Linked DNA regions of Homo sapiens: region 1 is linked to region 2. Evidence: fine-mapped expression QTL. Tissue or cell type: unexposed skin. Region 2 holds a variant in brackets; the other region holds the start of a gene. All regions are shown on one strand. Distances are from middle to middle. Region 1 holds the start of ACOT4 (acyl-CoA thioesterase 4). Region 2 holds the start of ACOT6 (acyl-CoA thioesterase 6).

What was found. PIP is the estimated chance that this variant, and not a neighbour inherited with it, causes the effect. A credible set is the group of variants that fine-mapping cannot tell apart.
Region 1: it holds the start of ACOT4, and the variant in region 2 is the best candidate, but not a certain one, in a credible set for the expression of ACOT4 in unexposed skin (GTEx, PIP 0.50).

Annotation. Positions count from the first base shown.
Region 1 is chr14:73,588,998-73,594,367 of GRCh38, reverse strand. ACOT4 (acyl-CoA thioesterase 4) reads right to left here and starts at 2,495. Exons shown (of 3, transcript NM_152331.4): 1 at 1,952-2,495; 2 at 464-666. The coding sequence starts at 2,408. It also overlaps a transcript of HEATR4 not described here. RefSeq lists a silencer at 1,881-1,950 and an enhancer at 1,762-2,261.
Region 2 is chr14:73,610,341-73,615,710 of GRCh38, reverse strand. ACOT6 (acyl-CoA thioesterase 6) reads right to left here and starts at 3,194. Exons shown (of 3, transcript NM_001365788.1): 1 at 2,679-3,194. The coding sequence starts at 3,139. It also overlaps a transcript of HEATR4 not described here. RefSeq lists a silencer at 1,614-1,858 and enhancers at 2,934-2,983, 2,517-3,016, 3,034-3,083. The variant G/A (reference allele first, on the strand shown) is at 2,686.

The DNA of each region.
Region 1 (5,370 bases), 21 kb after region 2:
CAATAGTGTGGAACCAGGTTGTTTCAAGATGTGAATCATTCATCAGATCATTTGCCATATGTATTGGCAAATGATTACAAAGCAAGACTTCAGAGTAAGTAAGTTTGTTCTTGGCTTCTGAAAGGGGTGGACAAGTTCTGACCAAAATCTGAGAACATACTCTGACACCAGGAAATTAAAATTTAAAAACAAGCATGCAAAGACAGTAGATTAGAAATTCAATTTGCAATATACAGATAATATTTAATATTACTAAATAAAATCTCATGTGGATTTTACAATTAATTCTATATCACAAATTCATCTGACAGAAAAAGTGGAAATAGCACCTTAAGCCAAGGAAGTCTCCAGAAGACATCTTTGTGAAAGAGGAACAGAGCAGCATTTCTGCACGTGGTAAAGGTTACACTCTCTATGGAAATATTTCTAGAGAGACTGATTAAATAAAGGACATGAGGAGAACCTGGGGATGTTGAAGCATGTAGCATACGGCTTCTTCGAAGTACTCCAGGGATATGTTGTCCATGTTATTGGGGAGATCTTCAAAGTTATAATAAGCTAGAGCCAACGTGGCAAAGCCATGGCCAGCAAGGAGGCTGGCTCGATATTCCAAGAGGCCCCCTCCAATACCAAAGATGTCAATGATCCCTGGGAAGGGTCCAGGTCCTAGAGAACAAAATATTATAAATGTAAGCCATTATACAATTTAAAGAATTTGCTTTCCTGGCTGGACACTGTGGTTCATGCTTGTAATCTCAGCACTTTAGGAGGCCAAGGCAGGAGGATTGCTTGAGGCCAGGAGTTCAAGACCAGCCTGGACAATGTAGTGAGACCCCATCTCTACAATCTTTTTTTTTTTTTAATTAGTCAGTGTGGTGGTGTATGCCTGTAGTCCTAGCTACTTGGGAGGCAATGGAGGGAGGATCACTTGAGCCCCAGAGGTCAAGGCTGCAGTGAGGTGTGACCACACCACTGCACTCCAGCGTGGGCAACAGAGACAGACACTGTCTCAAAAAAAAAAAAAAAAAAAAGAAAGAAAGAAAAGAAAAAAGATTGAAACAAAACTTTATGTTCTGTTGCATCAGCCCTCTGGTTTTTAGTGTACTGATATTTCAGATGTCTATGTAGAAAGGGAGGAAAGAAAAAGAAATACCCAGAGATGGTTTTAGGTGAGAAAGGCAGTGGAGTCTGAAGTGTGACCTGTGATAAAGCAGCACATGAAGAAGTGGAGAAGAGACAGTGTGCCTAGAACACTAGAGAAGACGACATGGTAATAGCTTCATTCACTGTCATCATTCTGCCTTAGACAAGTCAGGCTGATGCCTGTAGAAATCTGTAGGGTAGTGATTAATAGCAAAGTGGATAATGTACCTGACGACCTGAACCTGTTTTTTCATCTGCAGAATAACAATACCAACTTCATTGGGATATTATAGAGACTAACTGATAGAATGCAAGTAAAAACCGTAGTACACAGCCTAACAAAAAATCCTTTTTTTTCTTTTTTCTTTTTTTGAGACGGAGTCTCGCTCTGTCACCCAGGCTGGAGTGCAGTGGTGCGATCTCGGCTCACTGCAACCTCCATCTCCCAGGTTCAAGCGATTCTCGTGCCTCAGCCTCCCGAGTGGCTGGGACTACAGGCGTGTGCCACCAGGCTGGACTAATTTTTGTATTTTCGGTAGAGTCAGCGTTTCACCATGCTGGCCAGTCTGGTCTCAAACTCCTGATCTCAAGTGATCCGCCCATCTCGGCCTCCCAAAGTGCTGGGATTACAGGCGTTAGTCACCACGCCCGGTACCAAACCCTCTATTTTGGTAGAGTGGCCACTGACATAGTCAATGTTAGCTTCTCTGATCTTGCTCCAAAACCAAACCAGTGCTAAATCAGCACTGGAAACAAACGGAGACTCAGGCCACTGACGCTCACACCACCCGCCAGCAGCCTGGCTCACCTGGCGGCAGGAAGAGCGTGGCGCGCACCCGGCCCGCTCGCACCGACTGGCGCCGCACCCCTGGCGGGAGGAAGTGGCGCTCGTGCTGCGCCTGGCACAGCAGCCGTCCAGGCTCGGGGTCGTGGCCGTCCAGCACCTCCAACTCCACGACAAAAGGAATCTGTACGTCCCGCTTCAGGAAGCGCCAAAAAGGCTTCTCGGGTTCCAGGGCCCAGAGCAGCCCCATGGGCTCGAGTCCCGCGAAGCTGCCGCCCAGCGCGGGTGCGCGCTCCAGGTCCAGCTCGCCGCGGGCGTCGGCGCAGTAGCGCGCGTGGGCCCGGAAGAGCGCGCCCTTCTCGTCGCGCAGGGACGCGCGCAGCGTAACCCGCTGCTCCGGGGCCAGGCCGCGCACGGCAATGCGCACCGGCTCGTTCCAGCAGCAGCGGCCTGGGGGCTCCAGGATCAGCGTTGCTGACATCTTGGAGCCGGAGCGGGGAATTCAAAGGTCGAGGCCCGAGACCCGTCCAAGATCGTGGCAAGCGCGCCGAATGTCCGGACGGCGTCCGGCGTCCCCTGGTGCCGGAAGCTGCCGGTGGCTGAGCAGTCCCAGAAAGCCCCTGGGACTTCAGACCGGTTAACCCGGCGCTCCGGACTCGTCTGAGGCAAAAGTAGCCAGGCTCCTCTTCAGGGTCGTCTCCTTGGGCCCCGGGGCGCGCAAGGTGTGGCGCCCAACCCACCCCGTAGAAAGCCTCTCTGCCTCACACCACCCTCGGTTGTTGGAATGAAAGTTGTTGGATGATCAATTTGTGGTGAAACCAAAAGCCAATGAGATCAAGCCAAATTCCAGCCTTTCATGGGCTCCATGGAAGGTTTTGTTTTTAACTTTTTTTTTTTTTGAAACAGAGTCTCCTCTGTCGCCCAGGCTGGAGTGCAGTGGCGCTTCGGCTCACTGCAATCTCCGCCTCCTGGGTTCAAGCGATTCTCCTGCCTCAGCCTCCCGAGTACCTGGGATTACAGGCGCGCGCCACCATGCCGCTAATTTTTGTATTTTTAGTAAAGAGGGAGTTACACCATGTTGGCCAGGCTGGTCTTGAACTCCTGACTTCAAGTGATCTTCCCGCCTTGGCCTCCCAAAGTGCTAGGGATTACAGGCGTGAGCCGCTGCGCCCGGCCTGCTTTTTTGTTGTATTTGAGACAGGGTCTCTCTCTGTCATCCAGGCTGCAAGGCGGTGGCTCGATCACAGGTCACTGCAGCCTCCACCTCCCAGGCTCAAGTGATCCTCCTGTCTCAGCCTTCGGAGTAGCTGTGACTACAGACAGCGCACCACCATGCCACGTTAATTTTTAAATGTTTATTTTTAGAGAGGAGGTGTCACCCTGTTTCCCAGGCTGGTCTCGAACTCCTGAGCACAAACTATCCTCCTGCCTCTGTAGTCCCAAAGTGCTAGTGATACGTGACAGCATGCTGGCTGCCCTCGCTCGCTGTCGGCGCCTCCTCGGCCTTGGCGCCCACTCTGGCCGCGCTTGAGGAGCCCTTCAGCCCGCCGCTGCACTGTGGGAGCCCCTTTCTGGGCTGGCCAAGGCCGGAGTCGGCTCCCTCAGCTTACTGGGAGGTGTGGAGGGAGAGGCGCGGGCGGGAACCGGGGCTGCCCGCGGGGCTTGCGGGCCAGCGCGAGTCCCGGGTGGGCGTGGGCTCGGCGGCCCCGCACTTGGAGCGGCCGGCCGGCCCGCAAGCCCCGGGCAGTGAGGGGCTTAGCACCTGGGGCAGCAGCTGCTGTGCTCGATTTCTCAGCGGGCCTTAGCTGCCTCCCCGCGGCGCAGGGCTCGGGACCTGCAGCCCGCCATGCCTGAGCCCCCGCCCCCGCCGTGAGCTTCTGCGCGGTCCGAGCCTCCTCAACGAGCTCCGCTCCCTGCTCCACTAACGCCCAGTCCCATCGACCGCCCAAGGGCTGAGAAGTGCGGGCGCACGGCGCGGGACTGGCAGGCAGCTCCACCTGCGAACCCCGTGCGGCATCCACTGGGTGAAGCCAGCTGGACTCCTGAGTCTGGTGGGGACTTGGAGAATCTTTATGTCTAGCTAAGGGATTGTAAACACACCAATCAGCACCCTGTGTCTAGCTCAGGGTTTGTGAATACACCAATCGGCACTCTGTATCTAGCTAATCTAGTGGGGAGGTGGAGAACTTTTGTGTCTAGCTCAGGGATTGTAAACGAACCAATCAGCACCCTGTCAAAACGGACCAATCGGCTCTCTGTAAAATGGGCCAATCAGCAGGATGTGGGTGGGGCCAGATAAGGGAATAAAAGCAGGCTGCCAGAGCTAGCAGTGGCAACTTGTTGGGGTTCTTTTCTACGTTGCGGGAAGGTTTGTTCTATTTAGTTTTGTAATAAAGGTAGCTCAGTTTTTGGGCCCGCACTGCTGTTGTGAGCTGTAACACTCATTGCGAAGGTCCGCAGCTTCACTTCTGAAGCCTACCAGACCACGAACTCACCAGGAGGAACGAACAACTCCAGACATGCCGCCTTAAGAGCTGTAACACTCACCGCAAAGGTTTGCAGCTTCACTTCTGAGCCAGCAAGACCACGAACCCACCAGAAGGAACAAACTCTGAGCACATGGGAACATCAGAAGGTACAATCTCCAGACACGCTGCCTTTAAGAACTGTAACATCTCCGCGAGGGTCTGTGGCTTCGTTGTTGAAGTCAGTGAGACCAAGACCAGTCTGGAAACACCAGGATTATAGGTGGGAGCTACCTGCCGTGCCTGGCCATACATGTCAGTTTACTTAAAAAAAGCTTTTTGATGAAATATAAGGTAGGCTAGGCACAGGGGCACACACTTGTAATCTCAGTGCTGTGGGAGGCCGAGTTGGGCGGATCGCTTGAGGTTGGGAGATCTAGACGAGCCTGTCCAACATGGTGAAACCCGCCTCCACTAACAATACAAAAATTAGTGGGGCATGGTGATGTGCACCTGTAGTCTCAGCTACCTGGGAGGCTGAGGCAGGAGAATTGCTTGAACCTGGCAGGCAGAGGTTGCAGTAAGCTGAGATCATACCACTGCACTACAGCATCGGTGACAGAGCGAAACTTTCAAAAAAAGGAAAGGGAAAAAGAAAAGAAAAAAGGGAAGGAAGAGAGAAAGCAAAAGTATTGGAGATAGTAAAAAGATCAGTAGTTGCCAGGGATTGTGGGGAGGGAGGGATGAATAGTTGGAACAATTTTTAGGGCAGTGAAGCTGTTCTGTATGATACTGTAATGGTGGATACATGTCATTATACATTTGTCCAAAACTGTAGATGTAGAACAAACGAACCCTAAAGCAAACTAGAGATTTGGGGTGATAATGGTATGTCAGTGAAGGTTAATCAATTGTAACAAATGTACCATTCTGGTGGGGGATGTTGATAGTGGAGATAAGGGAACTATGCAAGTTTTG
Region 2 (5,370 bases):
CCCAGGCTGCAGTGCAATGGTGCGATCTCGGCTCACTGCAACCTCCGTCTCCCCCCGGGTTCAAGCGATTCTCCTGCCTCAGCCTCCCGAGTAGTTGGTATTACAGGCATGTGCCACCACACCTGGCTAATTTTGTATTTTTAGTAGAGATGGGGTTTCACCATGTTGGTGAGGCTGGTCTCAAACTCCTGACCTCAGATGATCCGCCCACCTTGGCCTCCCGAAGTGTTGGGATTACAGGCGTAAGCCACTGCGCCCAGTCTTGTTTTTTTTTTCGTTGTTGCTGGTTTTTTTTGTTTTTTGTTTTTTTTTTTTTTTTTTTATCAGACAGAGTCTCTCTCTGTTGCCCAGGCTGGAGTGATGTGGTGTGATTTTGGCTCACTGCAACCTCCACCTGCCGGGTTCAAGCAATTCTCCTGCCTCAGCCTCCTGAGTAGCTGGGATTACAGGCGCCCGCCACCATGCCCGGCTAATTTTTTGTATTTTTAGTAGAGACAGGGTTTCACCATCTTGGCCAGGCTGGTCTTGAACTCCTGACCTCGTGATCCACCCACCTTGGCCTCCCAAAGTGCCGGGATTAGAGGCGTGAGCCACCGCGCCTGGCCGCCTTGTTTTTTTTTTTGAGATGGAGTCTTGCTCTGTCCTCCAGGCTGGAGTGCAACGGTGCGATCTTGGCTCACTGCAACCTCTGCCCCCTGGGTTCAAGAGATTCTCCTGCCTCAGCCTCCTGAGATTACAGGCACCCACCACCATGCCCGGCTAACTTTTGTATTTTTAGTAGAGACGGGGTTTCACCATGTTGGTCAGGCTGGTCTCGAACTCCTGACCTCAGGTGATCCACCTGCCTCGGCCTCCCAAAGTGCTGGGATTACAGGCGTGAGCCACTGCGCCCGGCTCCTTGTTTGTTTTTAATGAAAGGTTTTAGTTGATTCTTAGTCAGTGTGATTTTTTTTTTTTTTTTTTTGAGACAGGGTCTCGCTCTGTCGCCCAGGCTGAAGTGTAGTGGCGCAATCTTGGCTCACTGCAACCTCAGCCTCCCGGGTTCAAGCGATTCTCCCACCTCAGCCTCCCTAGTAGCTGGGACTACATGTGTGAGCCACTATGCCTGGCTAATTTTTTTGTATTATATAATTAGTAGAGGTAGGGTTTTGCCATGTTGGCCAGGCTAGTCTTGAACTCCTGGCCTCAAGTGATCCACCCACCTCAGCCTCCCAAAGTGCTAGGATTACAGGTGTGAGCCACTGCGCCTGGCCCAGTCAGTATGATTTATTGAGCTCCTACTATATCCTTGCGAAAGCCTCTAGGAACATGGATATTTAGAAATCTGTAAGACCCAATTCCAGCCCCAGGAATTCACAGTACAGTGGGCAGCCACGAGTTAAGGCTAAGAATTGCTGAAGAGCTGTAAAAATAAAGCAAGTTTTCTTGTTTTGGAGAATAATCACAGAATTCGGTTTAAGGATTCTATGTGCTGTTGCAACTCTAGAATTTGTTGTTGTTGTTGTTGTTTGAGGCAGGGTTTCACTCTGTTGTCCAGGCTGGAATGCAGTGGCGTGATCTCAGCTCACTGCAACCTCTACTTCCTGATATCAAACAATCCTCCCACCTCAGCCTCCCAAGCAGCTGGGACTACAGGCATGCACCACCATGCCTGCCTAATTTTTTTTTTTTTTTTTTTTTTTTTGTAGAGACAGAGTTTCACCATGTTGCCCAGGCTGGTCTTGAACTCCTGGGCTCAAGTGATCTGCCCACCTCAGCCTCCCAAAGTGCTGGGATTACAGGCCTGAGCCACTGTGCCCGGCTCATCATTTTTATATGGTAGAGGTTTAAGTCAGGAATTTAGTTAGAAGGGATTAATCAGGAGTCTTCTTTCTGGGCTACCTTTACCTAGCAAACATCCTGTGTTTACTTAGACTAGGGTTCCTCAACCTCAGTAGTACAGACATTTTCAGCAAGATAATTCTTTGTTCTGGTGGTTGTCCTGTGCATTGTGGAATGTTTAGCAGCATCTCTGGCCTCTGCCTGCTAGATGCCAATAGCACCTCTCCCTTCAGATATGACAACCACAAATGTCTCCAGATATTGCCAAATTTCCCCCAGGGAGGGCGGCTAATCATTGCAGGTTGAGAACCACGTACAGCATGTTTATGATAGAAGGGAGAGGACTGTCAGGCAGTTTTGTGTGTGTTTTTAAACAATTAAAGGGCATTGCCAATACTGTGGATTTTAGCTTCTTTGGAAGTTTGATGTGAAAGGAGGCAAAAATCCTTCTTGCACATCAGCTTAAGGTTTTGCCCATATCGTATTCAAACAAAACCACATGGCTGGCACATAGTGGCTCTCAATAAATATATAATAAGTTGAATGCACTATTCAGCACATAGCTAAAGTGGTGGTGCCTCCAGGGAGGGACGTGAAACTTAAAAAGGAAAGACTGGAGTAGCTACTCAGGAGGCTGAGGCGAGAGGACTTGAGCCCAGGAGTTCGAGGCTGCAGTGTGAGCTACGATCCAGCCACGGCACTCCAGCCTGGGCAACAGCGGACGCCCAGACTCAGAATCCATGACAGACTCTGGAGCGAAGGAACAAGTTCAGGGATGTTCCACAATCACGCGATTCCCAGGACAGGAAAGGGGCCGGTGGGGGTCGCAGAGCTCGACCAAATTCTGGGCAGACTACTCATCCG[G/A]CGGCAGGAAGAGCGCGGCGCGCACCGGGCCCGCGCGCACCGGCTCGCGCCGCACCCCCGGCCGGAGAAAGTCGCGCTTGTTCTGCGCCAGGCACAGCAGCCGCCCGGGCTCGGTGTCGTGGCCGTCCAGCACTTCCAGCTCCACGGCGAAGGGCGTCCGCACGTCGCGCTTCACCAGCCGCACCAAGGCTTTCTCGGGCTCCAACGCCCACAGCAGCCCCATGGGCTGGAGCCCCGCGAAGCTGCCTCCCAGCGCGGGCGCGCGCTCCAGGTCCAGCTCGTCGCGGGCGTCGGCACGGTAGCGCGCGTGGGCCCGGAAGAGCGCGCCCTCTTCGTCGCGCAGGGACGTGCGCAGCGTGACTGGCTGCTCCGGGGCCAGGCCGCGCACTGCGATGCGCAGCGGCTCGTCCCAGCAGCAGCGGCCCGCGGGCTCCAGGATCAGCGTCGCTGCCATCCCAATCTGGGTAGAACAGGGGCGACCCAGCTCCGCGGAGTCAGTGGGCGGGCCTGGCGGCTTTGCCGAGCGCTGGAAAGTAGTCGAGGGCGGAGCCCTTAACACTACTCCCATTGGTTGGACTTGGGGACAGGCTCCAGGCCGCTGCGTGGGGCGCCTAGAATTTGTGCAAATACACCAGTGTCCCAAATGAAAGAGTATCTGCTGAAATAAGAGTTAATGACCAATCCGGCCGGGGGCGGTGGATCACGCCTGTGATCCTAGAACTTTGGGAGGCCGAGGTGGGTGGATCACACCTGAGGTTAGGAGTTCAAGACCAGCCTGACCAACAGAGTGAAACCTCATCTCTACTGAAAATACAAAATAGCCAGGTGTGGTGGCGCATGCCTGTAATCCCGGCTACTTGGGAGGCTGAGGCAGAAGAATTGCTTGAACCCAGGAGGCAGAGGTTGCATTGAGCCAAGATTGCACCATTGTACTCCAGCCTAGGCAACAAGGGCAAAACTCCGTCTAAAAAAAAAAAAAAAGAGTTAATGACTATTCCTGCAATCCAATGTGGTGAGTGTCGAAATAGAGGCACAAAAACCACTGAGAGCTAAAGGATTGAGAGAGATACAGTCCAAGAATCTAGATTTTGAAAAAGCATCCCAGGTGATTGTACTCAGGTGACCCCTTGGAGAAACATGGTCGTAATCCGTCCTTTACCCCTCAGTCCCTTACCAAGCCTTTTTTCCAGGGCTAATGGTACCTGGAGCAAAGCAGATGTTTAGGGAGGCAGACCTAGCCGAGTTCTGGTCTGACCCTGATCCTTAATATTAATACCTGGTGATCTTTAGCAAGAAACATAACCCTCTAAATTCAGTTTTCTTATCTGAAAAGGCTTATTGTGACCATTAAATGGGCTAATGTGTAAAAACACTACACTGACACACCTGTAGGTTAGTACCCAGTGAAAGTTTTGTTTTGTTTCTTACCTCACAAATCTAATCACTGGCAGAGTCCATTTTGGGTTGTATGCATACAGAGTTCTGGCAGTAAGCAAGTGGCACTCTCAGCCTGTGTAATTGAGGAGAGTTTTATAAAGGTACTATCTACAAAGGCATGGGCAAGATTTAAAAACAAAAACAATGAAACAAGATTCGGTGTAGAACCCTGAATCTGAAGGTTCAAGGGAAGGGGGCAGTCTGATAGGAGTTGTACCTTTTTTAGAAGGAACCTATGGTTTGTGGCAGGAAGGAGGAGACTATAAGTCCCTTGACTCTCCTCTTGTTTTTCAGTATCTTGCTAATGCCTCTCTTTGGCCAAACCCAACCACACAGCTCAACCTAGCTGGGAACATAGCAGGGTGGAGAAGGAAGAAGAGCATATAGTGATGCCCAGCTCAGTAAACATGTATAAACTGAACAAAAAGGTATTAGACTCTATGAAGCAAGTTCACTGTATGCTGGTTACCAACTTGTCTGAGTCCAGTGAGAAAACACATTCATATATTTAATACAACAATTTACATGAACTGGATTTATTACTTACAGATAGGCAGCAAAGAATGACAGAAGCCTAAGAATCATTGGAAACCAGTCCCCCAAGGCTCAGGAATGCTGCCTGGGTGATGGAATCTCATGTGTGTGTGCCCCACTTGCACTGCAGCTGCCCTGAGTTTTGTACTCTGGGGTCATGTGACTGCTGGGTTAAAGCATTGAAAGACATCCTGTTTGTAGGGAGGGGCTGGAATAGAGCCAGGGCTATTCCAGCCAGTCCGTCCCTCTCTCAGGATGTTACATTCCCAGCACGTTCTATGCTTGAGAACTACTAGTGAGAAAGAGGGGAGAACTGAGTCAGTCCAAGGCCAACCAGAGAACTGCCCTGCAGTCCATCCCCAACCCAGATACCTCCTTTAGTAAACCTAGTACATTTCATATGCCCTCCAGACCCCCAGGATCTGGAGGCAGAGGTTTGTCTGATCATATTAATATGGCACCTTGGTCGGGCACGGTGGCTAATGCCTGTAATCCCAGCACTTTGGGAGGCCGAGGGGGGCGGATGACTTGGGGTCAGGAGTTTGAGACCAGCCTGGCCAACATGGTGAAACCCTGTCTCTACTAAAAATACAAAAATTAGCTGAACGTGGCAGCACGCGCCTGTAATCCCAGCTATTCAGAAGGCGGCGGCAGGAGAATTGCTTGAACCCGGGAGGTGGTGATTGCAGTGAGCCGAGATCTCGCCACTGCTCT